Linked DNA regions of Homo sapiens: region 1 is linked to region 2. The links come from fine-mapping of genetic effects on gene expression. A gene starts in region 2. The other region holds a variant in brackets. All regions are shown on one strand. Distances are between the middles of the regions. Region 1 overlaps CLVS2 (clavesin 2). Region 2 holds the start of CLVS2 (clavesin 2).

Region 1 (14,786 bases), 63 kb after region 2:
TAAAATGTTAATAAATGATGTTATTACACAGAACTAGTGAAAACAAAGAAAAATCCAAAAGTAGAAACTTAACAATTGGGCAATTGCAATGCATCTTTACTGCCTGGTCCAGAGATGCAATTCACATGTAAGAGTTCTAAAAGAGCATCATCATATAATATATATTTTTTCAACAAATCTTGGCTTTGGAGAAATAAGAGCATTATACTTAATGAATTGCCAAGACAATATATGCATGATTTAAGTAAGGAAATTATATGATATATTAGAAGTTGGGAGGTGCTGTCAAGAAACATGATACATAGAAAGTGGATAGGCTTCCCAGGTTGGGCAGGGTTACAGTATTAAATAGGTTTACCAAGGAAGGCCTTCCTGACAAGGGGCCTTTTAAGAAGAGATGTGCAGGATGTAGGTCAACAAGCCATGAGGACATTTGGGAGTAGAAATCTCCAGACAGAAGAAATATCCATTATAAATGTTCTGAGGCAAGTGCATAGAAGGAGATGGGTTCAAAGAAGTAATTCTTATAGGACCTTATAGTTTCATGCTAAGAGAAAGAAGTCAATGGGGAATTGTGAGGAGAAAGATATGACCTGACTTATATTTTGACATGGTCATTCTGGCTGCCCTGTTGAGAATAGAGTGTAGGTGGAAGAGTGGATATAGAGAGGACAGTTAGGAGGCTCATGCAAGAGCACACCTGAAAGGATAGTAGCTGTGTTATGGGTGTAGGGGTAGAGCTAATCAGAATGATTGGATTTGGGATACATTTTGAGGATAGCACCAAAAAGATTTACTGACAACTGAGATGATGAGGGGAGTAAAGGGCTGAGTTGAAAGTTTTGGTCTGAGAAAGTGGAAGAATAGTGACACCATTAACTGATGTTGGAGATAGGGAGGAGCATATTTGAGGTGGGGGAAGATTATGAGTCCAATTTTGAACACGTTAAATTTGCAGCAGCCATTGAATATTTAAGTGGATATTTTAAGTGGAGAGTGGAAATACAGTTATGGAGTTTGAAAAAGGGGCCTGGATTCAAGACATATATTTCTAGTGCAGGGATATTATTTTAAAGCCACTGACTGAATAAAATGAACTTAAAGAAATCACCAATGAGAAAATATAGTTAAAGAAGAGAAAAAATCCAAAGACTGAGACCAGTAGTTCTCCAGTTAAAATATTAGGAAAATCAGGCCAGGCGCAGTGGCTCGCGCCTGTAATCCCAGCACTTTGGGAGGCCAAGGCGAGTGGATCATGAGGTCAGGAGATCAAGACCATCCTGGCTAACATGGTGAAACCCCGTCTCTACTAAAATACAAAAAAATTAACGGGGCATGATGGCGCGCCTGTAGTCCCAGCTACTCGAGAGGCTGAGGCAGGAGAATCGCTTGAACCCAGGAGGCGGAGGTTGCAGTGAGCTGAGATCGCAGCACTACACTCCAGCCTGGGTGACAGAGTAAGACTCTGTCTAAAAGCAAACAAACAAACAAACAAAAAAGATATTAGGGCAATCAGCAAAAGAGACTGCCAAGAAGTATTTAGGATGGTAGAAGAAAATCAGAAATGCATGAAGAAAATGTTTCAATAAACAGAGTCATCTATTATACCCATTGCTACGGAGGGTTAAAGATATATAAGGACTGGGAATTGGATACTGAATTTAGCAATGAGAAGGACCTTGACAAAAGTTGTTTTCATTCAGTGGTAAGAGACAAAGCCAGACTGGATTCCATTTAGGAAAAATGAGGAGAGTATTTGGACTATGAATATAGACAATTCCTTGGGTGAATTTTGCTATAAAGAGAAGGAGAGAAATAGGAAAGCAACTGGAGATGGAAGTAGGGCCGAGAGAGGTTTTATGTGTCTGTGTGGGGGGCGTGGAGTCAGGATGTTCTTTCTCTGATGGGAAAGATCCAGCAGAGAGAGGAAATCTGAGGATGTGTGAGAGATAGGAGAGAACTGTTAAGAAATACAACCGAGTAGGGGAGAGAGGACGAATTCTAGTGCGCAGGTGGAGAGGTTGCCCTTTGTAGGGTTTATCTGTTCATTGTACTAGCAGTGAAGGCAAAATACATAGACACAGATGCTGGTGGGTGGGTTGATGTCATCTGGTTGTCCTATTTTCTTAGTGAAAGTGGAAGCAAGGCCAAAGCGGAAAATGATGCTGCGGAAGGAGGCAACAGAGTGTTAGAGAAGAGAGAGGAAGTAGCGTGCTAGGATTACACTGACTGCTCCAAGGATTTATTACCATGACTCTTGCATGAGTTGAAGAAGATTTCTTATGTGAATGATCCCATTTGATAAAATAAAAGTTATATATCTAATAAAATAAGGGTTGCATGTGCCATAACTTAACTTTCACAGGAAAATTATTTTCATTTCTTCTTATAAGAAGAACACAGGGGTGCACATGTGTTTTCCTGGATATAAATACTGGCTGTTGTGCCCTCAGACAGGAGAGGGAAGGTGTAAAGTTTGCAGTTAACCTGGTGTACTTTGGGGCAGATGGCCTCTTCCACCTCCTGTGGGCCTCATGTCATGTACTCCAGACAGCTGTTTGCTCTGCCTATTTTGGCCAGTGACCTGCTGTTTCTGCTTTTACTCTTCTATAATTTGTTGAAAATGCTTATTAAGTGGCAACTACCATCTTCTAATTTTATTTGATATTGTAGAGTAATCTTTCTTTGTTTCCCAATGTATTTACTTCAGTGGATTCTGAAGGTACAGAAAGCAAATATGAATGTGTTAGCTTATTCTTCTTGAACTCAAGAATGAAATTATTTTTATGACTTACTATAATTTTGAAATAAATATTATATAAATGTAGATGAGACAACAGTGTTGTAGCAGAGAAGGCCAATCTGTAGTTTTGAAACTGAAATGAAAGAAGAGCAAAGGTAGCAGTTTATGGAAAAACAAATCTTGAGTATGTGGCTTGAATATGCCTCAAGTTTTTTTTTTTTTAAAGCACTATTTAGGATGGTAGAAGAAAATCAGAAATGCATGAAGAAAATGTTTCAATAAACAGAGTCATCTATTATACCCATTGCTACTGAGGGTTAAAGATATATAAGGACTGGGAATTGGATACTGAATTTAGCAATGAGAAGGACCTTGACAAAAGTTGTTTTCATTCAGTGGTAAGAGACAAAGCCAGACTGGATTCCATTTAGGAAAAATGAGGAGAGCATTTTGTCTATAATCATAGACAAAATGATTAAGGTATGCATACAGCTTTACATTTTTAATTCATTGTTTCTTTTTCTATTTGGACAGTCAGTATGGAAATCTTTAGTAGAGAAGATACTGGCAACATTACAGAACATAATGTCCTTTGGGACATGAACTTCACTCAGCCTTTCATTATGACGATGCTAATCTACTTTGGTTATTTACATCACCCACTTTGCATTATAAAACAGTAATTTAGTGGTTACAATATTCTTATTTTTATTGATGATAAAGAGAAAGCCTTGCAAGTGACAGCTTTTTGGTGTAATAACTTGCATAGGCTCTGTAATTGATGAGTCCCTTATGAGAAGGGTCTGTTTTCACAGCATTCATTATACACATCATCAAGTTTGCACAACTAACACCAGGATGATGTACAGATCAGCATGTACGTATTATTCTGCCCATGTCCCTGCCTATGAAGAAGGAAACCAAATTTGTGGTTGCAGCTCTTTTACCCAATAACTCTCTGACCTTCCAGAAATTACTTAAAGTGTCTGAGCCTCAGGATTTTGGTATGATATATTAGGATAACAGTACCAGCTCTGCCTGTTTTACAGAGTAGATGACTGGCTAAAGTACTTTAACAGACATGCGAAACTCATATTTGCTATTGCTATCCTCACATCCCCCCTGTAGGATTTAGATGGTATTTAGTTTCCTCTGTGTCTTTCCCTTCCTCCCGTCTTCTTGCATTTATAGATATTTTTGCATGGTAACAACCTGAACAGTCTACACCAACTAATTCATCCTGAGATCCTGCCCTCTGAGTTTGGAGGAATGCTGCCTCCTTATGACATGGGGACATGGGCAAGAACACTGCTAGACCATGAATATGACGATGACAGCGAGTACAATGTAGACTCCTACAGCATGCCTGTGAAGGAAGTAGAGAAGGAACTCTCCCCAAAGTCCATGAAGAGGTATGCTGGAGGTAGACTGGGGAGTGGGCTGGGCCAGGGCAGGGAGAGGCATCCTGAGTCAAACTCAAAGCTTTCTGTTTTTCTGTATACATTTTTCTGGTGGGATTTTAAAACTCTTTATGCCCTATGATTGTATGTCTAAGAGTTTTGAGTCAAAGATAAAGTCATTTTCTTATAGTGAGAACATTTAAAATTTATTCTCTTAGCGGTTTTCAAATATACAATACATTATTATCATATATTTGAAAACTGTAGTAACCCTGATGTATGATAGATCTCCCAAACTTATTCTTCCTGTCTAATTGAAACTTTGTACTTTTTGATGAATATCTCCCTATCCACCCCCCCAAACCATCCTGCCTCATCCCAGTGCTTGGTAACCACCATTCTACTATCTATTTCTATGAGTTCGACTTTTTTTAGATTCCACATATAAGTGAAATCATGCAGTATTTTTCCATCACATTGTATTCCATAACTATATGCAATTATCTGTCAATTAAGGAAAAGATAAAGTAATTTGAGGTAACCTCAACTTAGTGTTGTTCCAAATTCACAGACAGTCTAGCAGGGCCCTTGGAAGTCACCAAATCTGGTGGTTTTCAAATTGTATCCTGAGAAACCAAAGGTTTTGAGGGGGTGCCTTAGGCCAAGTAGGTGGAGTAGAGAGAGTGCCCATTTCCACTGTTGTGGGAGCAACTCTCCTATAAGCAATTTATTGGATTTCTGTGTAAGATTTCTTTTGAAGAAAGCAACCACACACACCAGTTCAAACACTGTGTTCAAAGTTTCTGGTCCTTTTTCAATATCTCTGCCAAGTCTTTGTCTAAAGGTCTAAACATTACTGGTACAAAACATTGTATTTCACTTCAGTTTTAATCTTTATAGAGTTCATTGTTGAGTCAGAGTCCAAATACCTGCTTTGACTCTCACAGCACTTTTATGCCTTTTATCTTTCAATCAATAGTCTGGGGAGTTGTCAGACATTGCACAAATGCATACCTGGCTCTGAGTTTGCATTCTGTCACAAACAAGTAGATGTGTAATTCTCAGACTTCCCAGGCAACCACAGCTCAGGGTCCATTTGGATAACAGTAACAAATATTACTTCTCCAGTTCATTTCACATTCACAGAAGTATGGGCACCGTAGCCCCTGCAAGTCTCCCCTCACCTAGCTCAGGGAGGATACAAGGACAATGAACGGGTCATGCCAATGTCTGGCATCCTTCTCTGATGAAAGCCTTAAGGCCCTTTGCCCATAGCTCTGACTCATGGAGTAATGTGCCTGTTCTTTAAGGATGGTCTTCTTTTTTTTTTTTTTTTTTTTTTTTTTTTTTTGAGATGAGTCTAGCTCTGTCTCCCAGGCTAGAGTGCAATGGCGCGATCATGATTCACTGCAACCTCCACCTCCCTAGTTCAAGGGATTCTCCTGCCTCAGCCTCTGGAGTAGCTGGGATTACAGGCTCCCAACACTGCACCCAGCTAATTTTTGTACTTTTAGTGGGACAGGGTTTCACCATCTTGTCCAGGCTAGTGTCAAACTCCTGACCTCATGATCCACCTGCCTCGGCCTCCAAAATACTGGGATTACAGGAGTGAGCCATTGCGCCTGGCCAGGATGGTCTCTTTTATGCTGCTGCCTCTGTTGTGATTGTTGTTAGTATGTGTGTGCATTGATTTCCTCTCTCCAGGCTGCTGCACAACTCCTTGGAGAGAACGGAAAGGCCAGAAATTTTCCCTGCTCTAATTTTCCACTAGTTAGCAAGCTTATATTTAAACCAACTTTAGGCTTCTTAACTCCCTTCTTTTAGAACAGAACTTCTCAAGATCTCTGCTCTCCTAAGGGGTTCATGGATGGGCTCTCAAAGGATTCTGTTAAGTGCTAAAAGTTGTATGCAAAATTTTGTGTGCGTAAGTATGAATGTACTATATGTATATGTCATGCATATATTTTCTGGGGAGAAGTCATATATTTCATCAAATTATTTGAAAGTTTTTAAAAACAAAAGTGGTTAAAAGCAACTCCCCCTAAAATAGTTTTCTTCTAATAAAATAATCCTAATGATAACAGTTGTTATAATCTATCATTTACTAGGTACTTTTCATGAAGTAGGTGTCTTTTTTTTACATTAATTTATAAATCCTCACAACAACCGTGTTAAACAGATACTGCATCCTCAACGTTAGGTAGTCTATATATAGTGGAGCAGAGGGCTCCACTGCATGAGATGTGGAGTCTTTCACACCACTGACATAAAGCCTGCCTACCCTTCGTGGCACAGAGGCCCTTTCTCAGAACTGAACTACATAAGGATTTGGAGGCAGCTGTCATCGGTGTCCACTAGTGTTCTTCTTTGTCAGCTAATGAGGCCCTTTTTCTTCAGCCATTCTGCCTGAGGCATGATTCCTCATGTGGCCCATCACGTGAGCACATTTTTCTCTGTATCTTCTACACATCACCTGCACTCTGCTCAGCTGCACCCACCCCCTAAAAATTATTTAACTGTTCTTGTTGATTCCAGCCTTACCTGCTCCCCTACTCCCAATTTATTATCCACATGGCAATCCAAAAATCTTTTTAAAATATGAATCAGACCATGTCACATCTTGGCTTTATTTTTATTTTTATTTTTGTTTTTTTGAGGCAGGTTCTCTTTGTGTTGCCCAGGCTGGAGCGCAGTGGCGTGATCATGGCTCACTGCAGCCTCCAACTCCCTGGACTCAAGCAATGCTACCACCTCAGCTCCACAAGTAACTGGGACTACAAGTGCCTGTCACCATGACTAGTTAATTTTTTATTTTTATTTTTTTGTAGAGACCAGGTCTCACTATGTTGCCCAGACTGGTCTCAAACTCCTGGCCTCAAGTGATCCACCTGCCTCAGCCTCTCAAAGCACTGGGATTACAGGTGTGAGCCACCAGGCAGGCCTTAGCTTTATATTTTTAATGACTGCTATTTATACAATGAATACAATCACCTCCTTATCATGGCTTACAAGATGCTACCTGATCTGACCCTGCCTCCCTCTCTCCTCCAGGTGTATCCTGTCTGCTTCCTCTTCCCCTGCTTTTCAGACACATTAGTCTTCTCTTTTTGCCCTTGTCACCGCCACCTGGAATGTTCTTTTCCTTCATCTTCAAATGGGTGGTCCCAATCAAAGGTCAGCTCCTCGAAAGAGTCTTTTGATCTTTGTCACCCACCTGGTCTTAGTCAGTTCTGTTTCCTCTTCATTCTGGTCACTCCCTGTCCATCACCCTTCTTTATTTTATTCTCTTCATAACACTTTTAGCCTTTGAAATTGCTGATTTTGTTTAATTTTATATCTGCACCCCACCCCAAAGTAAGCTTCAAGGAGACCATATTGTCTATGTTTACCTTATTCTCTGAATCCCCAGTGCCTGGAGAAGGTCCTGGAAAAACAGAGGGTGCTCAGGAAATACCAGTTGAATGCATGGAGGAGTGCTCTGCTGCCCATCAGTGGCCCCCTTTAAGTGCAGTATTCATAACTGAATAGGGAACATCTAACCTGGTATTGGCACTTGCATTTAAGTTGCAGAGTTCTGGCTTTGCAGGATAGACCTCACTGGCTTCTTTGGGTTGCTGTTGTTGTCACTGTTGCTATTGTTCAAGCAGCCAAAACTGACTGGTATGGGGGTTCCTAAAACTGGAAAGTCTCTTTACTTACCAATCCATATCCTCCTATTGTTTAGGTTTGTCCTCCAATCACATTATTTTAATTGATTAAGGCCCATCTTGTTAGATATAGCCTAGTCTATCCACCTTTTGTATCCTGATTCTTTTCTCCAATTAAATAGACCATTTTCTCCCCTACACACTTTGCTTGTAGCCCATTAGTGGCCCCAGTCCTGAGTTTCCTGCTGGTGTCATGGGCTGATTAGAGTTTTAGGCATTGTTTGGTGTACGTTTGGTATCATATGAAACATTTATGATTCTATGGAAAACTGAAAAATGAGATTAAGAAAGGTGTTGCACTTGATTCTCATGTTCTCTATGTCAGGGAATGGCAGTTCGCCATCCAGGACAAGAGAAGATTGCTCCTATGTTCCACACTGATTCCCCTTGGCCCTTTTCTTTTTGTAGTTTTATGATATCTTTAGATTAAGAGGGAGAAAATAATTCCATCACTAAAGAGTTGTGGATAATTCTTCTTTTGGGTAAATGTAGCTAGACATGCAAAAAGATGACTTGTCTTTTTGTATTAATTTCTGGAGGAGAAGCATAGTCATGTGTAAATATGCAAAGTTCACTAGACTAAGTATTTTAGAACTGGAGAGTGTCTTTTACCTTATGCCGCCAATGCCTAAGATAGTGCCTGGCACATAACAGTAGTGAGTAAAGTAACCATACCTATTTCATGATACGCACTTCTGATTATTGAATATTGAATATATTATTATTGAATAAGGTTAAGCATTTATTATTGCTTTGTGCCAAACCCTGTTCCAATGCTCTATGTATGTTGATTCATTTGCTTCTTGAAGCAAGTAATAAAGTAGTAGTATCCCCATTTTATTGATAGAGAGACTGAGAAACAGGAAAGGTAAGTGACTTCCACATGTTGCATAACTACAAAGTAGCAATGCTAATATCTGTACATAGGCAATAGTATTCCATGAGCCATTTCATTAACCATATGCCAGAATTTGTGCCGGGGTTTATGGATGCATTGTTGCATCTGATACTCATTATAACTTTATGATGTGGGTATTATTTTTCCCATCTTAAACAATAAAGAACAAAATCTTAGGAAGTTTAGTCTTCCCATGATCACACAGCTAGTAAACTGCTGTTATTAGCAACTGGAGTTATGATCTACTTCTGTCCGAAATCTAGTTTCTTAAACACTATGTATTGTAGATGCATGAGAAATGAGTATTGGATATCTAAATCTAAATTACTAGTTTTCAAGAAAGAAAGAAAAGTTATTCATTGTGAAAACAATAGAAGCTGCATAGAAACCCCTGAGATGGGCTGGGCACAGTGGCCCATGCCTGTAATCCCAGCACTTTGGGAGGCCAAAGCGGGTGGATCACTTGAGGTCAGGAGTTTGAGACCAGCCTGGTCAACATGGTGAAACCTCATTTCTACTAAACATACAAAAATTAGCCAGGCATGGTGGTGCACGCTTGTAATCCTGGCTACTTGGGGGAGGTGGGAGCATCAGTTGAACCCGGGAGGCGGAGGTTGCGGTGAGCCGAGATGGTGCCACTGCACTCCAGCCTGGGTGACACAGTGAGTCTTTGCCTCAAACAAAACAAAACCGAAAAAAAAAAACCCAGAAACCTCTGAGATGTATGAGTTAATGATAGCTCCCTCTGCTGTGGCTAGAATAAATCAATTCATTAATACTTCTGATCCTGCACAAATAATCCTGTTCTGTCATAAAAGAGACTAAAAAAAAATTGGACTAAAATAACTATACACTTGGGACAACTAAATACCAAAAAGAAAAAGAATTAATCACAAATTGTTTCTGACTCACTTTTGTTCTGTGATTGAGGCATTGTTTCACATATGGAATCAGCATTCATCATCCAACAATCCTCATATCTGTAGTGCATACTAAAAGCAAACTAGAAACTTAATCCCAGCTTGAATAATACACTGTAATTTAAAATATTTTGTTAAAAATGTCATATTCTCTAATATTGTTTTCAAAAACAGTCAGGAAACACACAGACTTAGAATGTGTATATGTGAGCATGTCTGTATAATGTGTAATAGTATATTAGGGCAAATGCTTAACTATTGTGCCTTGTGCAGTCTGAAGAGCTTTGGTATGTACTTATGGAATATTATTAGGATATACCTCAATATT[T/TATATA]ATATATTTAATTTTATGAAAAATTTAAAATTTATTTTCTATAAAGAAAACAGAATTGCTTTCTTTATTATCCTCATTACTCTTCATTTTGAGTTCTTAATACTGAAGTTCTTTCAATTTGGAAATTATTTACTGGCTAGAAGTCAAGACATGAAGAACTTACTCTTTTCCAAGCCCTATGATGCATGTTGTATTCACAATAAGGAAAGAAACTGATAAAGTCCCTGCTTATGGAACTTGCAGTCTAGTGCATATCAGTTGTCAGGTTAATACTTTAGCACAGGACATTAAATGAGCCTCTTTCTCTTTGAACATGAATTCATCTGAGAGCCAATTTGCTTGGTTGGGTCTTACCTAAAAACAAAGTTAGAAGTCTAATTACTTAGTCTTTTGTGCAATTGTCTCCTTTGTTAAAAAGTATTTTATTCATGTACTTTAAATAAAGATGATTATGTATTATTGCATTTAAAAGTGACACAAAATCTCTATTCTCTCTACTCTTTCTCCTTATTGTCCTTTTCCTCATCCTATTCTTATATTCATATCTTATCCTATTATTATCTTATATCCTCATCTATTCTGTCTTACGCTCACACACACAACTTTAGCAAGTCTTTTTTTTCCATGATAGGCATCTAATGCCTATTTAATATTGAGATAAAATAGTGTAAATGACACTTAGGAAACAAAATCTCTCAATTTTTTAATGCTTTCACCTTCATTTTCATTCCCTCTTTAGGAAATAATTTAAGTTTATTTAAATTTAATCAGTTTATCAGTTAATCCTGTAATTATTTTTTCTTTGATAATTAGTTCCGTTGCTGTTCTTTTTCATTTGCATGTGCAGTTGTGTTTTAGCTTATAGTCTTTTCAGAAGTTAATGAGGTCTGCTAAGAGGCATATTGCCACAGCAAAAGCCAATTGGCTGGAATGCAGCAGCAGGGGAAGAATTCATTACCAAGGAGAATTCTAAAAGGGCAGCTGCTTACTAAATGCTACAGCTATTAAGATGGCAGCTTCCTGCCATGACAGAGCATGTTTCATTGATTTTCCTCTTTCCCATTCTCATATTGTTTCCTAATGACAAATTGAGACAGAAGCCCCACCTGCTATCAAAGGCATGTATAAGTGGGTTTTCAAATTATGTGCTTTCCTAATCATAAACTGTTGCTGCCTAAACAAGAGGGGGTTTTACTTTTTAAAAATCTATAACTGTTCCATGAAATTCTCAAGATGAAGGTTGATTTTATTTGGATATTCTACTAGGACATTTAACAGAAACATACAAATTTTGATCTTTTGGTTGATACAATCATTAAAGTTAAAAAATGACGGTCAAAAAAGGTGCATTCTTGTTGCTTTTTTTTCATATGTTTTTTAAAGACTGGAATTAAGCCTCCTGTTATTTCTATTTAGTTTATCATAATAATCATTTCACTGTAATTTTTTTCCATTTGGAGATGTTTTATTGGAAAACATCTATCCTACACTAGAAATTTGTGATATCTCAAAGAAAAGAATCTTCCCTAACTGTGAAGAGCTCTTAAGCCTGGTATTGTCTATTTAGAATCATTGGCGGCTCACTATTCTATTTAGAGGCCAGAGGGGATTTTTTTCCTCACTCCAGTGCAAAACATCACCAGCAGTGGTTTTTCTCTAAATGTGCAACATCCACAATTCATAAATTTCTTGATATAGAGGAAGGGAATTCACATTCCTGGGAGAAGTAATGACAAAAAGAGGAGAGAATGTCATCTGCACAATTACCTGGTAATAACTCACTGACGTTGGCTTTATCCTTTCCAGATCTCAATCAGTAGTGGATCCTACAGTACTAAAACGCATGGATAAAAATGAGGAAGAAAACATGCAACCATTGCTTTCTCTGGACTAATAACTTCTCTACATCCCCTTCATGGATTAGAAATGGAAAGTATTGGTTTTCAGCAACAGGGACAACACTGTAGAGGAATTACCAGCTGGAAACCGACTTATTCATGTTAATGTAGCATAATATATAACAAGGCATCAGGCTTTCCTTGGCCTGAACCATGGGGGCCCTGGGCTGGATTTTTAAAATGTCAATAATTTATTCTGTAAGTGCCAAGTTGTTTGTAAATATAATGTAATCTTCATGTCAAGTTTGTAAATTTCAGTAGTAACTCAGTTTGGAAAAAGGTTGGCTCAAAAGTCCATGCCAGTGTTATGAACTATAACAAAAAGCAGAAAAGACACAGTCAAAGCTAATTAAATGTAGCCCTCTTTCCTATGAAGCCATATTTCAGCTCTCATAGTGATTGTTTCATTGTTTTTCTCTGAAACTCTGTCAGTATTCAAACATACTCTTAACGGGCACACACAACTAAGTGATTCCAGGAAATTTTATGATTAATGTATTTCCTGTCTAGTGATTTTCATTTCAGAGAAATGTGTCTTAGTAACTATCATTGGCCTTGCATTTTGGAGGCAAGGAATGGCAGATGAGCTGGTAAACTGAACACTTGAACTCTTCTATGTTGTTTAATTCTTGGAATCTTGTGAAAAGATGTGTTTCCTCAATTAAGACGTAGAAATGTAAAAAAGAGTGGATTCTTTTTAAATTGCTGTCTTCACAATGTGCCCTTTATTCAAGACCCTATTATATTTCTTCCTAATGTACTCTAAGTACATTTCCCCTCCAAAACTCTTTGACTAAGAGAATGAGAACTCATGTGAACAGTGTTCTGACAGCTAATTTTGAACATAAAATTTTCCACTTACAGATGAGGGGCTAATTTCTAATTGTTGTGCACTGGTTAAAAAGTATATATATATATATATTCACACATATATATTTTTACTGAGCTCTAATAAATCCTTAATGTGACAGGCTTATAAAATAAATCATAGATATTCAATGATCTTATGGATAATTACATGAGATAACTCTGGAAAACTACTTCCACTGAAGTTAATGAAAAGGAGAAATAGTGAAACTGACTTTCAGTGTACCTATTTAAAGGAATTCCAAGTTAATTTATAATGCAATCTTACATATGTGCCATCTTATTTGAACTATATTTTTCCTTCAAAGAAGCAATAGGTCTCAACATAGTGTAGGTAGCATCAGGTGACAGAAAGCCAATTTTATTTTCAAATTTAAGTTAATTATCTTCGTGATCCTATTTATCCACAATTTCTTTCAGAAAAGACTGAAAAAACACATTATATTCAGGAGATATAATGAAATTATTGGAAGGCATCTATGACAACATGTAATCATTTATACGTGGATTTAGAAATTTGCATATTTAACATTTTATTTCATAAAATTTATACAATTACAGCAAATCTTAATTTTTTAATTTTAAATTTCAATGTGAAAAAATGATTTTTATCACCCATAATAAATTTTGAGATTGAGAGTTTACCATTAAAGTATTCTTTTGGAAGAAAAATATCTCAGAAACTCTTGGAAACCAACAAAAATAAAGGCATGTGTCAGCCTTCATATTTTTTGGCCAAAAGCTCCCAAAATTTGTTATAATTCTGCAGCCAAAAATTGTAAAAGCAAGCTGAATACACCAATGTACAGTGTATCAATGGACTGCCTCATGTGTGTAAAAATACATTAATTAACACAAATGAAAGATACCTTAATAATGCCAACCTCCAGTCAAGTGCAGAAGAATAATGACTGTCAGGCACTCTGCTCTCCTTGTGACTTTTACAGAGATTGGAATGCACTGGGGACAACATGTCTCAGCAGTTCTTACCTTTATAAGAATTCTAACCATTGATATTCTTACATTCTTGCCTACCTGACATACATTTTGTAGCCATGGGCTTTTTAGACTATATAAATCTTAGGCAGTATAATCCATTGGAATAAAATAGAAACATTGTAAGTGCAGAGGGCAGTCAACTTTTCATTCTCATGAGTTTCTCTTGATGTGTACCATTTATTGCCAGTTTTCAGAATTCTGCCAGTTTCAGATGTCAACCAGCATTGGCAGCTTCTTTCCCCTATCGTAAAGTTAGTGTCATATATAAAAATAACTAGAAAGGCATATTTTATATGTATGCCTATCTAATTATAAGTATCATTCACACTGTCTCCCAGACCCACATTTGGAAAGTTTGCATTGCATTACTGCTCATCTTTAGATGAGCAATTGAGAGTTGGCTAGATTGTGTAAAATATTTTAAAATGAATGAACAAATTACAATGATGATGCCTTTTGAAATTACCATATCTAGTTCATTCTGTGAATAAACTCATTTTCTAGTAATGTTTGTGAACCTTAGTCAAGGGATATTCATTCAACTTTATAAATTTACCCCTCAGCACCAGCTATCTAGCACTGTTTAGGAATTTTTCCCTTCATGATATTCTGTGTCACATCCTATGTCTATGAATAACCTATACACTATAGTTGTATGCCTATAAGCACTCCTATACTCTTGTATTTTAATTGCAATAGTATACCTCCACTCTCTCTCTCTCTCTCATACACACACACACACACACTCTTACACACACACTAACACACTAGACTGTTTGCCCTAATGAATTTTCCTCTGTACTTCGAGAGCTATTTTAGTTGTCTTGTCACTTGAAATTTGCGGGCTTCAAAGAATTATCGCATTTGACTTGGAATGGTCCAGTAGTCCATTTACTTCTTTCACCCTGCCTGTTCCATCTTCTATTTCTGATATTTTTTCTTTCTTCCAGTTATTTCAGGGGCAGGTGATTCCAAAGCTGGTTTAAAAATAAATAACTTCTCTTATGTTGTCAGTGATGTTTGCCT
Region 2 (16,004 bases):
GTCTCTGATAAAATAGACTTTAAACCAACAAAGATTAAAAAAAAACAAATAAGGGCATTACATAATGGGAATGGGACCAATGCAACAAGAAGAGCTAACTATCCTAAATATATATGCAACCAATACAGAAGCACTCAGATTCATAAAGCAAGTTCTTAGAGACCTACAAAGACACTTAGACTCCCACACAATAATAGTGGGAGACATTAACACCCCACTGTCAATATGAGACAGATCAACGAGACAGAAAATTAACAAGGATATTCAGGACTTGAACCCAGCTCTGGACCAAGAGAACCTAATAGACATTTACAGAACTCTCCACCCCAAATCAATAGAACTTACGTTCTTCTCAGCACCACATCGCACTTATTATAAAATTGACCACATAATTGGAAGTGAAACACTCCTCAGCAAATGCAAAAGAACAGAAATCATAACAAACAGTCTCTCAGACCACAGTGCAATCAAATTAGTACTCAGGATTAAGAAACTCACTCAAAACCACATAACTACATGGAAACTGAACAACCTACTCCTGAATGACTACTGGGTAAATAACAAAATTAAGGCAGAAATAAATAAGTTCTTTGAAACCAATGAGAACAAAGAACCAATATACTAGAATCTCTGAGACACAGCTAAAGCAGAGTATAGAGGGAAATTTATAGCACTAAATGCCCACAGGAGAAAGTGGGAAAGATCTAAAGTCAACACCCTAACATCACAATTAAAGGAACTAGAGAAGCAAGAGCAAACAAACTGAAAAGCTAGCAGAAGACAAGAAATAACTAAGATCAGAGCAGAACTGAAGGAGACAGAGACACGAAAAACCCTTTAAAAAATCAATGAATCCAGGAGCTGGTTTTTTGAAAAGATTAACAAAACAGATAGACTGCTAGCCATACTAATAAAGAAGAAAAGAGAGAAGAACCAAATAGACACAATAAAAAATGATAAAGGGGCGATCACCACTGATCCCACAGAAGTACAAACTACCATCAGGGAATACTATAAACACCTCTACTCAAATAAACTAGAAATTCTAGAAGAAATGGATAAATTCCTGGATACATACAGCCTCCCAAGACTAAACCAGGAAGAAGCTGAATCCCTGAATAGACCAATAATCGGTTCTGAAATTGAGGCAGTAATTAATATCCTACCAAACAAAAAAAGCCCAGGACCAGATGGGTTCAAGCCGAATTCTACCAGAGTTACAAAGAGGAGCTGGTACCGTTCCTTCTGAAACTGTTCCAAACAATAGAAAAAGAGGGACTCCTCCCTGTCTCATTTTATGAGGCCGCATCATCCTGATACCAAAACCTGGCAGAGACACAACAACAACAACAAAAAGAAAACTTCAGGGAAATATCCCTGAAGAACGTCAATGAAAAAATCCTCATTAAAATACTGACAAATCGAATCCAGCAGCACATCAAAAAGCTTATTCACCATGATCAAGTTGGCTTCATCCCTGGGATGCAAGGCTGGTTCAACATACACAAATCAATAAATGTAATCCATCACATAAACAGAACCAATGACAAAAAACACATGATTATCTCAATAGATGCAGAAAAGGCCTTCGATAAAGTTCAACACCGCTTCATGCTAAAAACTCTCAATAAACTAGGTATTGACGGAATGTATCTCAAAATAATAACAGCTATTTTTGACAAACCCACAGCCAATATATTGAATGGGCAAAAGCTGGAAGCATTCCCTTTGAAAACTGGCACAAGACAAGGATGCTCTCTCTTACCACTCCTATTCAACATACTATTGGAAGTTCTGGCCAGGGCAATTAGGCAAGAAAAAGAAGTAAAGGACACTCAAATAGGAAGGGAGGAAGTCAAATTGTCTCTGTTTGCAGATGACATAATTGTATATTTAGAAAACCCCAGCGTCTCAGTCTAAAATCTCCTTAGGCTGATAAGCAACTTCAGCAAAGTCTCAGGATACAAAATCAATGTGCAAAAAATCACAAGAGTACCTATACACCAAAATAGACAGAGAGCCAAATCATGAGTGAACTCCCATTCACAATTGCTCCAAAGAGAATAAAATAACTAGAAATACAACTTACAAGGGATGTGAAGGACCTCTTCAAGGAGAACTACAAACCACAGATCAAGGAAATAAGAGAGGACACAAACAAATGAAAAAACATTTTATGCTCATGGATAGGAATAATCAATACCGTGAAAACGACCATATTTCCCAAAGTAATTTATAGATTCAATGCTATCCCCATCAAGCTATCATTGACTTTCTTCACAGAATTACAAAAACTACTTTAAATTTCATGGGGAACCAAAAAAGAGCCCATATAACCAAGACAATCCTAAGCAAAAAGAACAAAGCTGGAGGCATCATGCTACCTGACTTCAAACTATACTACAAGGCTACAGTAACCAAAACAGCATGATACCAGTACCAAAACAGATATACAGATCAATGGAACAGAACAGAGCCCTCAGAAATAACACCACACATCTACAGACATAGGAATGGGCAAAGACTTCATGACTAAAACACCAAAAGCAATGGCAACAAAAGCCAAAATTGACAAGTGAGATCTAATTAAACTAAAGAGCTTCTGCACAGCAAAAGAAACTATCATCAGAGTGAACAGGCAACCTACAGAATGGGAGAAAATTTTTGCAGTCTATCCATCTGACAAAGGGCTAATATCCAGAATCTACAAGGAACTTAAACAAATTTATAAGGAAAAAACAACCCCATGAAAAAGTGGGCACAGGATATCAACAGCCACTTCTCAAAAGAAGACATTTATGTGGCCAAAAAACATGAAAAAAAGCTCATCAGAAATATGCTGAAAATTAAAGATGAGAAGAGAAAATAAAATCAGGCAGAGACAAATAAGAGATTACTTTCAAAGGAATAATGAAAAAATTGAGTTAACTTGACTACAGAAATAAGACAAGCCAGAGAAAAAGAAAAAAAATATTTAAAGTATTGAAAGGAAACAGCTGCTAATTTAGAATCCTATAGCTTACAAATATGTTTTTAGAGTAAAAGTAAAATAACTTTCAGACAAATAAAACAAATAATTTACAACCCTCAGATCTGTACTAAAGGACACATTATAATGTGTTCAAGTGAAAAAACAAACAAATCACTACTATATGGAAACTCAGAGATACGGGAAGGAATAAAGAAGAGTAAAAAGGATACATATGGGGTTAAATCTAAAGCATTGATTCTCAAATTTCAGTGTAAATTAGAATCATTCAAAGGACTGAGCAGAAAACTTTGTGAGTCTCTGAATTTTAGGGAGGATTTCTGATTCAATATGTCAGGCATGGGAGTTTACATTTCTAACAAGTTCTCAGGTAATTCTAATGCTGCTGGTCTGGGACCCACATTTTGGGAACCACTGAGGAATATTGGTTGTATAAAAAAAGGTGGAGTTTAAAATTTACATTAAATCACAATCTACTCGCATGTGAAAAATTATTTTTGTGTGACAACAGTTGCGCTGTCTAGTAGGGAAAAAAAGATGATCTTTTTGATAGTCTCCGTAAATGGTACTGAGTAAACAGGTTATTCACATAGAAAAAAATTACTTGACCTATTTCTCACATTATGAGCAAAATACAATCTGGTGAATTGCAAGTCTAAATGTGAAAGGCAACAACAATAAAATTTCTAGACAGTAAACTGGAGAATAAATATCTGAGTAATTATGGGATATTCTAAGCAGGACCTAAAAAGCACTATTCATAGGAGAAAAACTGAATTACCTAAAAATTTAAAATTATGTTGATTAAGAGACAGGGCTAAGAGAGTGAAAGAAACAAGCCATGGACATGGAGAAGATATTCACAACATGTGCAGCTGACAAAGGGTTTATATTCAGAATCTATAAAGAAGCTCTACAATTCAATATTAAAGCAATCAACACCCCACTATAAACATCAGCAAAATCTCTGAAATGACACTTCACACAAATAATGTACAAATGGCCCAAAAAACGTGAAAGTTTAACCTCATTAGTAGTGATGGGAAAGCATACCAAAACCATAATACAATACCCTTGTTCAAAATCAGAATGGATAAAGTTAAAATTATAGACAATAATAAGATTTCTGAGAACATGGCACAGTAAGAACACTCATATATTGCTGGGGGTTGGTGAAACAACCATTTGGAAAACAGTTTGGCATTATTTACTAAATTTGGAGATGCACATTACATATGACCCAGAAATTTTCATTCCTAGGTCTCTCCATGTGCACCAAAAGACATGTGCCAGAATCTTCATACATCATGGTTCATAAGAGCTCCAAACTGAAAACAACCCAAATTTCCCTCCACAGTAGAATGACACACATATTGTAGTAGGTGTATAAAAATGAAATTCTACGGCTGGGTGCGGTGGCTCATGCCTGTAATCCCAGCACTTTGGGAGGCCGAGGCTGGAAGATCATGAAGTCAGGAGTTCATAACTAGCCTAACCAACATGGTTAAACCCTGTCTCTACGAAAAATACAAAAATTAGCCAGGAGTGGTGGCGTGTGCCTGTAATTCCAGCTACTCAGGAGGCTGAGGCAGGAGAATCACTTGAACCTGGGAGGCGCAGGTTGCAGTGAGCCAGGATCACCCCATTGCACTCCAGCCTGGGTGACAGAGGGAGACTCCGTCTCAGGAAAAAAAGAAATGCAATTTTATGCACCATTACTGAATATGAGGGAGCTGCTACATACAACAACACTGACAAAGACAAATCACACAAATTTAATATTGAATGAAAGAGGTCAATCATAACATTACATATAAATGATTACATTTAAGTTCAGAAACAGAAAAACAAAATTGTAGTTATTTAGTTGGTAAAATTTAAAAAAAACAAACAAGGATTACTTTTAAAATAAAGACAGTGTGGCTTCCTTTGTTGGAAAGAGGCCAGTAGTTAGGAGGGGAATGGGAGGGGGCTTTCTGGCTACTGACAATGCTTGGTTTCTTAACCTGGTTGGACACTTACATGTGTGTTTCCCTTGTAAGATAGAATTGAGCCGTACATCTTTATTTTGTGCTCCTTTTTGTGCATATATTTTATTTAACAATAAAGGGAATAAAATGTTTTAAAACATAAAGTACTTACTCTACTCATTTTAAATATAGCAGTAAACCAAACTTTTCTTTCTAGTTACTTGAAAACACCTGAAGTCCTTGATTTAATTATTTTTCCAATAATGCTTTAATTAATACTTTTGTTTAGATAATTTATTCTCATATTCCAGTTCCTACATTACTTTGCATTAATTTGGCAAGGTAGATTAATATTGAATGAAAATCAAATGCTCTGATGTCATCTGAATAAACACCTTGTTTAATTTTAGATGGCTTCGTGTATTCATTTTGGTTTCAGAACTGAGTTCAAATGTATAAGTAGAGAGAGAATAACAGTATAATCACTAAAGTTTTGTAAATATGATTTAAAAATCTTATATATACCTAACTGACCTGCTCCAACAATCCTACTGGGTGATAGAGACTATTTCTATCATATGTAGATATGTTAAAATAAATCTATTTGAAGCAATTCTGTTATTGGTAAATAATAAATAATAAAAATGTCATCCTTCAACCTTCAATACTGGTCATAACATATGCTGGGCCAAAAAATACATTTTATTTTATAAATTCCCTTAAAAATATAGTCTAATATGTCCATCTCAGAGAACAAAATTAAACAACTGTTTTTTCATCAAGGTGAAAGATCTGAATTTTAACTTCACTTACAGGCTAACAAGTTAGCTGGCTGTAGTTTCATGGATGCCGATGGAAGATGCAAAACTCTTGGCTTCGAGATAAAGGATTTTGTCACTCAGGCATAGCGGGCAGTATGAGCATCTGCATATCTTGCATTGACTGGTCCCCTGAGCTCTAATTCCCACAGATAGCTAAGAAAAGAGGATCAAGTGATACTGGCATAAACAATGGGTGGCATTACAGCAGAATAGCTCTGAGTTTAGGGAATTCAAATAAGCTTGCCTACCTTTTGGTCAGGAGAGAGATATCACAGCTTTCAAGGCTTTGTTTCAGATGGAGGTACTATCTCTATCTTCCAATATCTTCCAAGACTATTTACTGTACAAATACCCTTGAGAAGACAGTCTAGAAAAAAGGGCAATTAGTGCCTTGGTCATAAGACAGGTAGAAACACAACGGATCCAGGGAGAATTGTCTCTCCATGTTGGTGATGACTAAAACTTCTTCATACAGTTGATACGAAACATAAATTTTCTTCAACCTCTAAAATATTAGAAAAAATGATTTTTTCAAATGTTTTAAAATGAGAACCAAAAATTTAACAGTTCACATTGCATTCAGCATGCTTGAGAAAGTCATAATCACTTAAAATCCTAGAAGGACCTTATATATAGTGCATATATATAACACACATATACACACACTTAAGTGGTTTATTTTCTGCCTTCCCCATTTAAAACATAAATTCCTTGACAATAATGACTGTGTGTGTGTGTGTGTGTGTGTGTGTAATTTATTGTCTTATTCGGGTTCCTACATTAATTTGCATTAATTTAATTAATAAATGCTCTAGCTCTACCATACAACCCTTTTCCTTCTTTCTTTTTATCAACACCATCGCCATGAGAAGAGCAAAAACAAGTGTGCCTGTATTTTGAGGGTTCTCATAGTCATCAACATTGAAAATGACAAGATAAGAAATGTCAAGATAAGAAAATGACAAAATTTGCTTATCTTCAAGACCACCTCCTATACACAGAATGCAGAAAAATGCCCCACACCTCGTGGAACTCAGTAAATATTAGTTGCATTGAATTAACTTCAATTCAAGACCCCATTCTACAGTTTATAAAGTCAAAAGTTGCTCTTAGTAACACGCTCAGTAATATGTGCTGTGTTTTGAAAATAGAAAATATCCCTTTTCCTCAAATCCATAGATAGTCATATTAAGCGCAAGGACTTCTGTTTATTTATAATGATTCTCATATACAGATGCATACAACTGAAGGAAGGATGGTATGTGTTTCCAGAAATATTTGCTTTATGATGAGATATGAGTGAAGTTCCTATTTTTTTCTTCCTTTGAGAATTATGTTTTTATTATCATTTACCCTAGTGCTCATTTTCATCCTCTTCAACAGAAATTTAGCAGGGAGACTGGTTGAAAAACTATTCATATAAGTTCCTCCGGAGGCTTAATCATCAGTACATTGTCTTGGAACCACTCTGGTGTTTTCTAAATTAAATATCTCTGTCTACAACAAATGCGAAAAGTACAGAATGTTTCCGTACTCCTTCTACATCAAAATTGCCTCCTACAGGAACGAGAAAATGCGTGTCAATGTGAATTACCGTCTACAACAGCTACTCTCCAGGCTGATCTGGGGTCTTGCACACAAAGGGCGAAGAGAGGGGCGTGGGGAGGCTGGAAAGCATGGTTGCCCCGCCTGGCCCGGCGACGCCCGCTCAGCAGCCTGCTGAGGAGTGGGGACGAAGAGCAGCCTAAACTTAGGGCTCGGGATATTTCGATGCCACCCAAATTGCCGTCCTACCCCAACGAGGCAGGGAAAGGAGCGGAGCGCGCGCGCGAGCTGAGTGAGTGCTTACGTCGCAGCGAGATCTGTGCTGGGATAATTAGAGAGGAGTTGGGCTGAGCCGAGTCCTCTTTCAGCAGCAGCAGCCGGAGCCGCCGCCGCAGCCCGGTGGGGCAACCCTGACTCGGACCGCTCGGGAGAGCCCCAGGAGAGGCCAGCGCCGCGCAGCAGCCGCCCCGCTGCGCCCACCTCCCCGGCTGCTCCCGGAGGGCTCACAAAGGCGGTGGCCGCCCGAGTGGCCTTCTCCATCCAGGCGTTCGCGTCCTCCTCCCCACCTTCTCTCCCGAAGGCGAAAATGGCAGGGCCAGGCGAGAACCTGGGACAGCGGTGGCCCTAGCCCTGCGATCCTCACCCCTCCTGCTAGGAGAGGCTGCGGGCTGCCCGCGGACGATGTGGCCGCGGCTGCTCCCGAGCGCATCTTCGGCCCGGGTCCCCGCCGCCACCCCTCTTCTCTGCTCCTTCCATCCCGCCCAGAGGAGTTGATGCCGCTGTCGCCGCCGCCGCCGCTGCTGAAGCCGCGGCTGATGGATGCCAGGGAGTGCCGCATTGCTTAGCGACCCCGCCTCTGGGTTTGCTGGTAGGAGCGGCTGCTCTTTCTTCTTTCTTGCTTTGGGGTTTTATAGAAAAGATAAGGACATTTTTATTTTATTCTTCACAACGTCCTCCCCTTCTCTTCGTTTTTGAAATGTGCATTCCCAGAGATATCCCCGGTCCCCTCCCTCCCCCTCCCCCCTTTTCTCCAACCCCGCGGCAAGTCCGTGGAAATGAAGGGCTAGAGGAAGGCAGAAGTTGGGGGTGGGGTTGGGGGAGCCCACGCTGGTACCAACGCCACCAGAACCCCTGCTGGTGCCTTATGAGATCACGGTGTATCTCAGAGGGGTGGTGGGAAGGTGCGCTATCTGCAGAGTCTTCACCTAATTGGATCACAATAATCTTAAATAAATCACACAAATTTGTCTTTTAAAAATAGCGTCTTTGAATAAGTACAGGGAGAAATAATCTCCTTTCTCCCCCCTCTTTCTCTCTGTCTCTTTTTCTTTCTGGCAAAGATGATCTCTCTCCGCCCTGGAGCTCAGCGCTGAAGAGCTACCTTATTATTAATCAGAATTTCCATCGCCACCCCTGGCAGGCGTATCCTTCAGCAGGGACCGCAGGAACATTCACAGTGCAGGGGCTGAGATGTGCGTGGGGGTTGTTTTTGTTACATCTTGGAAGAGAAGAGAAGAGGACAGTACCAAGATCAGAAACACCCGTGCTAGGTGGAATTAGGGGTGATTTGTTAGGAAAGAGAAAGGACAAGAAGAGGAGTGCGGAGCCCTTCAGGGGTTCACATCTCTTTAAAGGAAAGGAAAGAGGGAGCCAAAGTAGGGTGTTGTATTTTAGGGGGCAGAGGAAGAAGTTTACACCCCCCGGCCCCCCCAGCTTTGCTGGGGGAAAGCAGGAGCAACAGGGCACTTGATTGGACACCAAGATTATTAATTTCCTGTAGGGGAGAGGAAGCAGGCAGCAGGAGGTCTGGGGGCTGGAGTCTGGTGGTGGCAAGGACCAGGTTTGCTTTGGGACAGTCAACAAGGTCTTCTGAGGGAAAGCTCAGAGATAGGCAGAACAATGACTCATTTGCAAGCCGGTCTCTCCCCTGAGACCCTGGAGAAAGCTCGCCTGGAGCTCAATGAAAACCCAGACACGCTGCACCAGGACATCCAGGAGGTGAGGGATATGGTCATCACCAGGCCGGACATTGGCTTTCTGCGCACGGATGATGCCTTCATCTTACGCTTCTTGCGGGCTAGGAAGTTTCATCACTTTGAGGCCTTCCGCCTCCTGGCGCAGTACTTTGAGTACCGGCAGCAGAACCTGGACATGTTCAAAAGCTTTAAGGCCACCGACCCTGGCATCAAGCAGGCACTGAAGGATGGCTTCCCTGGGGGCCTGGCCAATCTGGACCACTATGGCAGGAAGATTCTAGTCCTTTTTGCTGCCAATTGGGATCAGAGCAGGTAAATCCTAAATCCAAACTTGTATTCTCCTTTTACTCTCCCATTTTCCAGAATTTACCCCGAGTAGTGTCATGGTTTTGTAGATTTGATATTTTTGTTTATTTGGCTTGGAGAAAAGAGAAACAAACCAGGAGATGAGTTTTTGGTGGGCACCCTGGGAAGGGAGGAGGGCTTGTATTTTTACTTTTAAAACTTACTTCACTAACACCCACTTTCTACTGCAGCTTTAAGGTGCTACCTTAACCACGTTATTGCACAGAGATCTAAATCACTTAACTTGTAAATAAAGCTTCTCTGTATGTTTCACCTTCTGAAAAAGTTTATTGGGCTGGATAAACCAGTAAGAAAATGGGGACAACTTTTCCTCCTTCTTCCTAAAAAAATTCTTAAACTAGACCCATCATCATTGTCATCATCATCATCATCATCCTCTCTTTGGTACTGACGTTTTATCTTTTAAGCATAGCCTGGCGTTCGACCAAAAGCAAGTAGTTTTGTTGCTTGGGAAGTTCTCTGTTTGGTGATGTGTAGAAGAAGGAATAATATGATTTGTGTCCCTTCAGTGAAAGGAAGAGTTGCATCCTCTGTCGCTGAGCATGCCTGCTGACACTGAAAATGTACACTGACTGGTGTATGTGTCCTACACCTGCCACTAATCTAAAGAATCTGTCTCCTGTCTCATGTGATTTTTCATCTTTTGGAAGGAAGTGGAAAATATTCAGATGTGTCAGTTGGTGGACTTTTTGAGCTCATGTGCTACTTAATAGAGAAGAAATAATATTCTTTTTATCTACATTATTATAGAAAAATGCAGGCAATGACACTTCTCTGTCCTCCTTCAGAACTGTTTTCTCAGACTGAAAGATATAAGAAATTATAAAAGGCTCTTGTGCAAGGTAGTTTCAATTAAGTTCAAAGTTAAATATATTTCATGGGACTTAAAATGCTACCAGAGCTATGAATCATAAGAAGCTGCTTGTTAAAACATTGGTGTATTTTTAGTTCTGTGAATGGTGACTTTCAATGCATCTGGTTAGTTTAAATCATCTCTGGAGCCATCGTACAAGACATTTACAGTTACCAAGAGGGCTTATGGATCATAGAGATTTCCAGATAGGCTTCCGAGTCTTGGTATCTTAGAATGTAAATTAATATTTTTAATTATTTTTTCTCTCATTTTATTGTGATTTTTTTCCCTGTAATTCTAGGTTGACAATCACTCCAATTTTTTTAGGCAAATAGAAAGACAAACTACTACCTGAAGATTCATAATGCTAAGAAACTCATACAGAGTTAGCCATTCAGAGGGAATGGAGTTTTGTTACTTACTTTGGCCAGTTATAGAGATGTTATTCCACTTTTTATCAGGTAGCTGAAAATTTTAAAGAATTACAACTTTTTATTCATTGACCACAATTTTTGTTTAAAAATGTTTTCTTTTCATCCTAAAAGTACATTGTAGGATCATGCAAATCAATGACTGTGTATAACAGAACTGAAAAATTTTATTCAAGGAAAAAACTAATATTCTGTATGTCAGATTGGAACTTTGTTAATTGAGCTATAGTGAAATGGAACCTGGAAATTTTATATTTATATAAATCTCGAAGTCTGTTAGAGATACCATTATGGGGGCAGATTGCATTCAGAGAGGCATACATATATATCAGACCTATTTTCATGAATTTCTATAAGTGAACTAATATTCATAATTATTTGTAAACCTAATTAAGATGAAAGTCACTTATAGTTTTCATATATATGAGAAAGTGATAATTCTGAATTTATTAGAGACACTGTGTTTTAGTTGTCTATCTCATGCTTCCATATAAAGGGCAGACAACTAGTAATCAAATTCTCTTTCCCTAGAAATCTATAATGGAAACGGAGTTAATAATTGGTATATAGAATTACATTTCATTAAACTTACACATAATCTTAAATACTAAAATGTGTATTAGAACAAAATGAGAAGCTGTGTTCTGTAGAAATTTCCTGTCAAGATGTCTAGACTTGTAATTATGAATTCTATTTCTATGGTTGGAAATAAACAGGTATAATCAAGAAATTATCGCACCTCAAGGTGAAAAGGTATACAAGTGATTTAGAGCTTAGTCAAAATTTCAGTTGAATTTCTTCCTATATTAAAAAAATAATAATTCCCTCTTCTTTCCCACCTTCCTTTTATCCTAAATCTACATAACCCAATGACAGGGACTAGTAGACAAACAGATCTGTCACCTTTGCACCCTCTATAAACCTTTATCACTGGAGCATGTGCATAAAAACGTCCTTGGCTCCTGCTCTGAAACTCAAAGGACAGCTGCCTTTCTGCCAATGCCAGGATGTTACCAACACTTCTTAGCCTGAGTCCCTTTCCTCTACCCCGAAGGCTCCTTGACTCCTACAGAAGTCTGCCTCTTTCCCTAGGTGTTTAAGTTACTATTATTGCTCTGTTAGGTGGATAATGCCATGTGCTAGTTTCTCTTATCCCTCATCCCTCCCCTGTTCTGTGAGTGAGATGTTCTCACCTTCCAGGCCCTGATCCCACCAATCCAAAGCTACCTGGATTTCTCCAGAAGACTGCATGTCTGAAAATAATCCTGGCAACATTCTTTGAGTTGTTAAGTGAAGCACCTGGCTTTCAACAACTTTCTTAAAAAGTAGCCTGTTTTAAAGAAACAGTGTGTGAGAAGTGTAGATGATTACATAGATAAATTCTAGAAATGAGGCGGAAGAAAATGCCTCAGTTTATTTGGAAAACAGGTTATTTATAATTTTCCAACTACAAAAGGAAAAACAAGATTTTATGAATTTTGAAACAATTCGTAAAGACCCCCAATAGAATTGATCTAACAAAAAGACTGTCATGTTATTATATTTAGTACGGCACTTGAACTAGAGTAGATGCTCAATAAATATTTGAGTTGAATTGAGTTATGCATTTGTATAAAAAGAATTCTGAGTAGAGATTTATTTGATATACGCTTTCTCCTATATGAAATTTGTAGGACAGTTTTCTGTGCTCTTCAGGACACTGAAAACAGTAAAACCGTGTGAGACAGTGACTATAAATAAAATAGTGTCTGTTTCTGCTGCAATTTAGTGTAGTTTACTTTTAGGTTATTGTAAAGAATTGGATGATTTCCAAAGCCTTTTTGAGAGACATGGCATCATTAAGAAGACTAACATAAAATCCTAATATTTACAGTGTACCCACCTTCTAACAAATCTAAAAAAAAATGGAAATACTCAAATGTCAAAATGAGTTGCAGTGTGGCCTGTGGTTCTTCCAAAAAACAATAGGGCAAGCCCAGATGACCTGTTACATTTATTGAGCTGTACCTTGGAAAAGATTCATATAATTTTATCTCCTTTTAGATTGCCTTACATAATTTCTGACAACAAAAGTAAATGCCATGGAATTAAAAACTATTTGACTGTTACACTGCATCACAAAGATGCCTTCGTCCTCCATGTATTGCATATTGTTTTCCTTCCTAAATGGTAGTGACCTGCTTAGGACTCAGCAAATACCTTCAAATGGTTCGCAGGATCTTATCAACAGGTGTGAGGATAATGTGCCGTAAAGCTAGCAGAGGTTAACACTGCTGGAGAAAAGGAAGCTTGGAAAGAAAGTACATGGCATTCTAGGTCCTAGAGCATGCAAGCATGTATCTAGGAAGTTGAAATCCACTGTCACATAATTGTTGGAGATATTCATGAGTGAAATTGTGTCACCTGAAACATAATGATGATAGGAAGTGTCAGAGTTCACCTGTAAGTTGTCAGCCTGCAAGTCATATTTTATTTCTCTAGATCTCATTAGAAGTATGTACTTCACTATACTTTAGTACAGCAAACAACCATTTATCTGGAATATGGTTAATAGTCATTAGAAACAGTAATTCTCAGTAATTCTCTGAACTTTAGTATAGCAAACAACCATTTATCTGGAATCTAGTTAATGGCCATTCGAAAACAAACACAGTTAGAACCAAAATGATTCTTAATATGGTGGCAATCCAGAAAGCACTGGCCACCTTGCATGGTCTTTGGCTTATCATAGTGGACATTGATTACCACTTACAGTAGCGAAGCTCTGGAAGGGGCAGAAAACTGATTGGTCAGACATTGATATGATACTCTAACTTATCCTGGAATTTGCCCAAAAAACTTGTCAGTTTGCTCCTATTGTGTGGCTTTTTCATTCAAAAGCAAACATTGTATGAATGGTTGCTATTTGTGGTTCAGTTTGAATTATGATTATGCTTGCATTTACTAAAATAATATGGCCAATGTTCAGAATAGAAGGTTATGGTGATGATAACTTACAATTTAAAACATAGCCATAGACTACACAGATGGGCATTAATGCCAATCACAAAGCTTTACTCATCTCTGGAATTGTACTAAAAATAATAAAATAAAATAAAATAAAATAAAATAAAATGAACAGGAATAGATTAAAACAGTCCAGGGCAATTATCCAGATAATTATGGAGAAATATTTTTACTCTGCAACAAAAAAAGCAAAAAAATAAGAAGTTTAATTTTTCAGCTTAATTTTTCAAGAATTCTTTTCTCAGTTTATTAACATATTAAATAATTCCCAGCTTTTTGCTTCACATTGTCATACCTACTGGCAGAGTCTGGAGTCTAGGAGTCCTTTTCGTAAAAATTCTGGAGGCATGGCTTTGCCATCTTTTGGGTGGATACTGGTTAGGGCAAAACCACAAATGGCAGATATGTATTCCATGGGACTTCTCTCCCAGCAGAGCTTCCATCTTGCTTCCTTTCAGGGAAACTCTTTTAACAAATCCTCTGCTAACTGCAACTTATTCCAAACTATAATCTTGGTACATATCATGGCAAATAGGGGAGGAAAAAAAGTTGTCCTGAGAAATGTTGGAGGAATATGGTGATGAATCTCTGCAAAAATAGGACAATCTCCAAAAACTGGGGCAATTATGCAATAATTAGTAAAATAATCCCGAAATAACAGCAAAAACTACAAGTGCCAACCTTCAGTAGGACGTTGACTAAGGCTGGCCTGAGCCAAGCTATTTTCATGTTTCAAAATCAACTTTAAAGAAGGTCGAGAAGCAAAGGACTTGAGGTTACTACGGTGTCCTGAAAGGATGCCTCAAAAGAAATGTTTAAAGATATTTTAAAACATGAGCCAATAGTTAGTATATTAAGAAGTTATCCTTAGTAAATTAATACATCTCCTCCTTTCTGTGGGAAATGTTAAATTCTCTTACTTTACTGAGGGCAGGTACATCTATTTCACTATTATAGTAAGTGGCTATTACACTATTATCGTAACATGAAGGAAAGGATACTCCTGTATGTGGGATCGTTATGATACCATATGACAAACTGAGTGATTAATATTTTGGTCAAATTAATTGAAAAAAATACACTTTGAGAATTTGTTATGTACATAGCATTTTAGTAGGTACTGGGGGCAAATAAAGACACATACTTTGTACTTTTAAGCAATATGTAACCTCTCTGGGAAGAAAAAACATGTAAAGCTGAGTAACTATCAGAGGTCATATGCAGCTAATGAGGACACTGTTTACCAGTGCTAGAAGCTGGGGACAGGTGGGCAGCTGTGGGCTACTCAGTGTTGTGTAGGAAAGACATTGCCTGCTTGGTTAACTGAATTCAACATTTATTGTTCCATTTTATTCATTATTCATTTCAAAATAATTCTACTGTGTGTATTGTAGCAATTAAGTACTTCACTCATGATCATACAACTGGTAAGTGAATTAGTCGCTTTTTGTGTGTGTGTGTGTAGACAGTTACCAACCTAAATCTAGGGAAAGGCAAATGTATAAAAAAAATCAAATTCTGATAATTAAAGATAATTCCATCTATGGTTTAGAAAATCTCGATTAAATATAACAAAACAGGCAATTAGGAACAGAACGTTAAGATGGAAGAATAAACTTTCTGAAGTCAAAGACTTTAGTTAACTAGATGTTTGCTTAGAGTACTTGGCCCTGATAAAAATAATTGCTTTCTGATGTGTTTGTATTCTCCCAGCACAATTCTGTTTTATTTTGTTTTATTTTTTGGTGGCAATAGATGCAAAAGTTTTTTCTTTACCCGTCTTCTTCAGAGAAAGACATTTTGCCCGCAGATGTTTCATTTCCAACGATTCTCTTGTTCTCACTCACCTACATTCCCACAGCAGTAAAATTAAAGCAAGGCTCAGACATCTAATCTTCTGTGCTCAGTAATACAAGCCAGACAGATGAAATTTCAAGAGTTCATATTTATTCCAGGGATTGTAGATTTAGCCATTTCTTATTCTGAGTCCTAAGGATGTCTTATTGCTTTTCCTCCACCAAAGCTCCCTATTGTGGTGAGGCTGGAG

What was found. PIP is the estimated chance that this variant, and not a neighbour inherited with it, causes the effect.
Region 1: its variant is the best candidate, but not a certain one, in a credible set for the expression of CLVS2 in sigmoid colon (GTEx, PIP 0.81).

The regions. Positions count from the first base shown.
Region 1 is chr6:123,051,872-123,066,657 of GRCh38, forward strand. CLVS2 (clavesin 2) reads left to right here. Exons shown (of 6, transcript NM_001010852.4): 5 at 3,935-4,155; 6 at 11,803-14,786. The coding sequence ends at 11,890. Among named protein-coding and RNA genes, the nearest start is that of CLVS2, 63 kb to the left of the region's middle. The variant T/TATATA (reference allele first, on the strand shown) is at 9,997.
Region 2 is chr6:122,988,554-123,004,557 of GRCh38, forward strand. CLVS2 (clavesin 2) reads left to right here and starts at 7,682. Exons shown (of 6, transcript NM_001010852.4): 1 at 7,682-8,193; 2 at 8,666-9,613. The coding sequence starts at 9,225. It overlaps LOC124901392 (a long non-coding RNA gene), which reads right to left and starts at 6,367. Exons shown (of 2, transcript XR_007059733.1): 1 at 6,029-6,367; 2 at 4,742-5,933.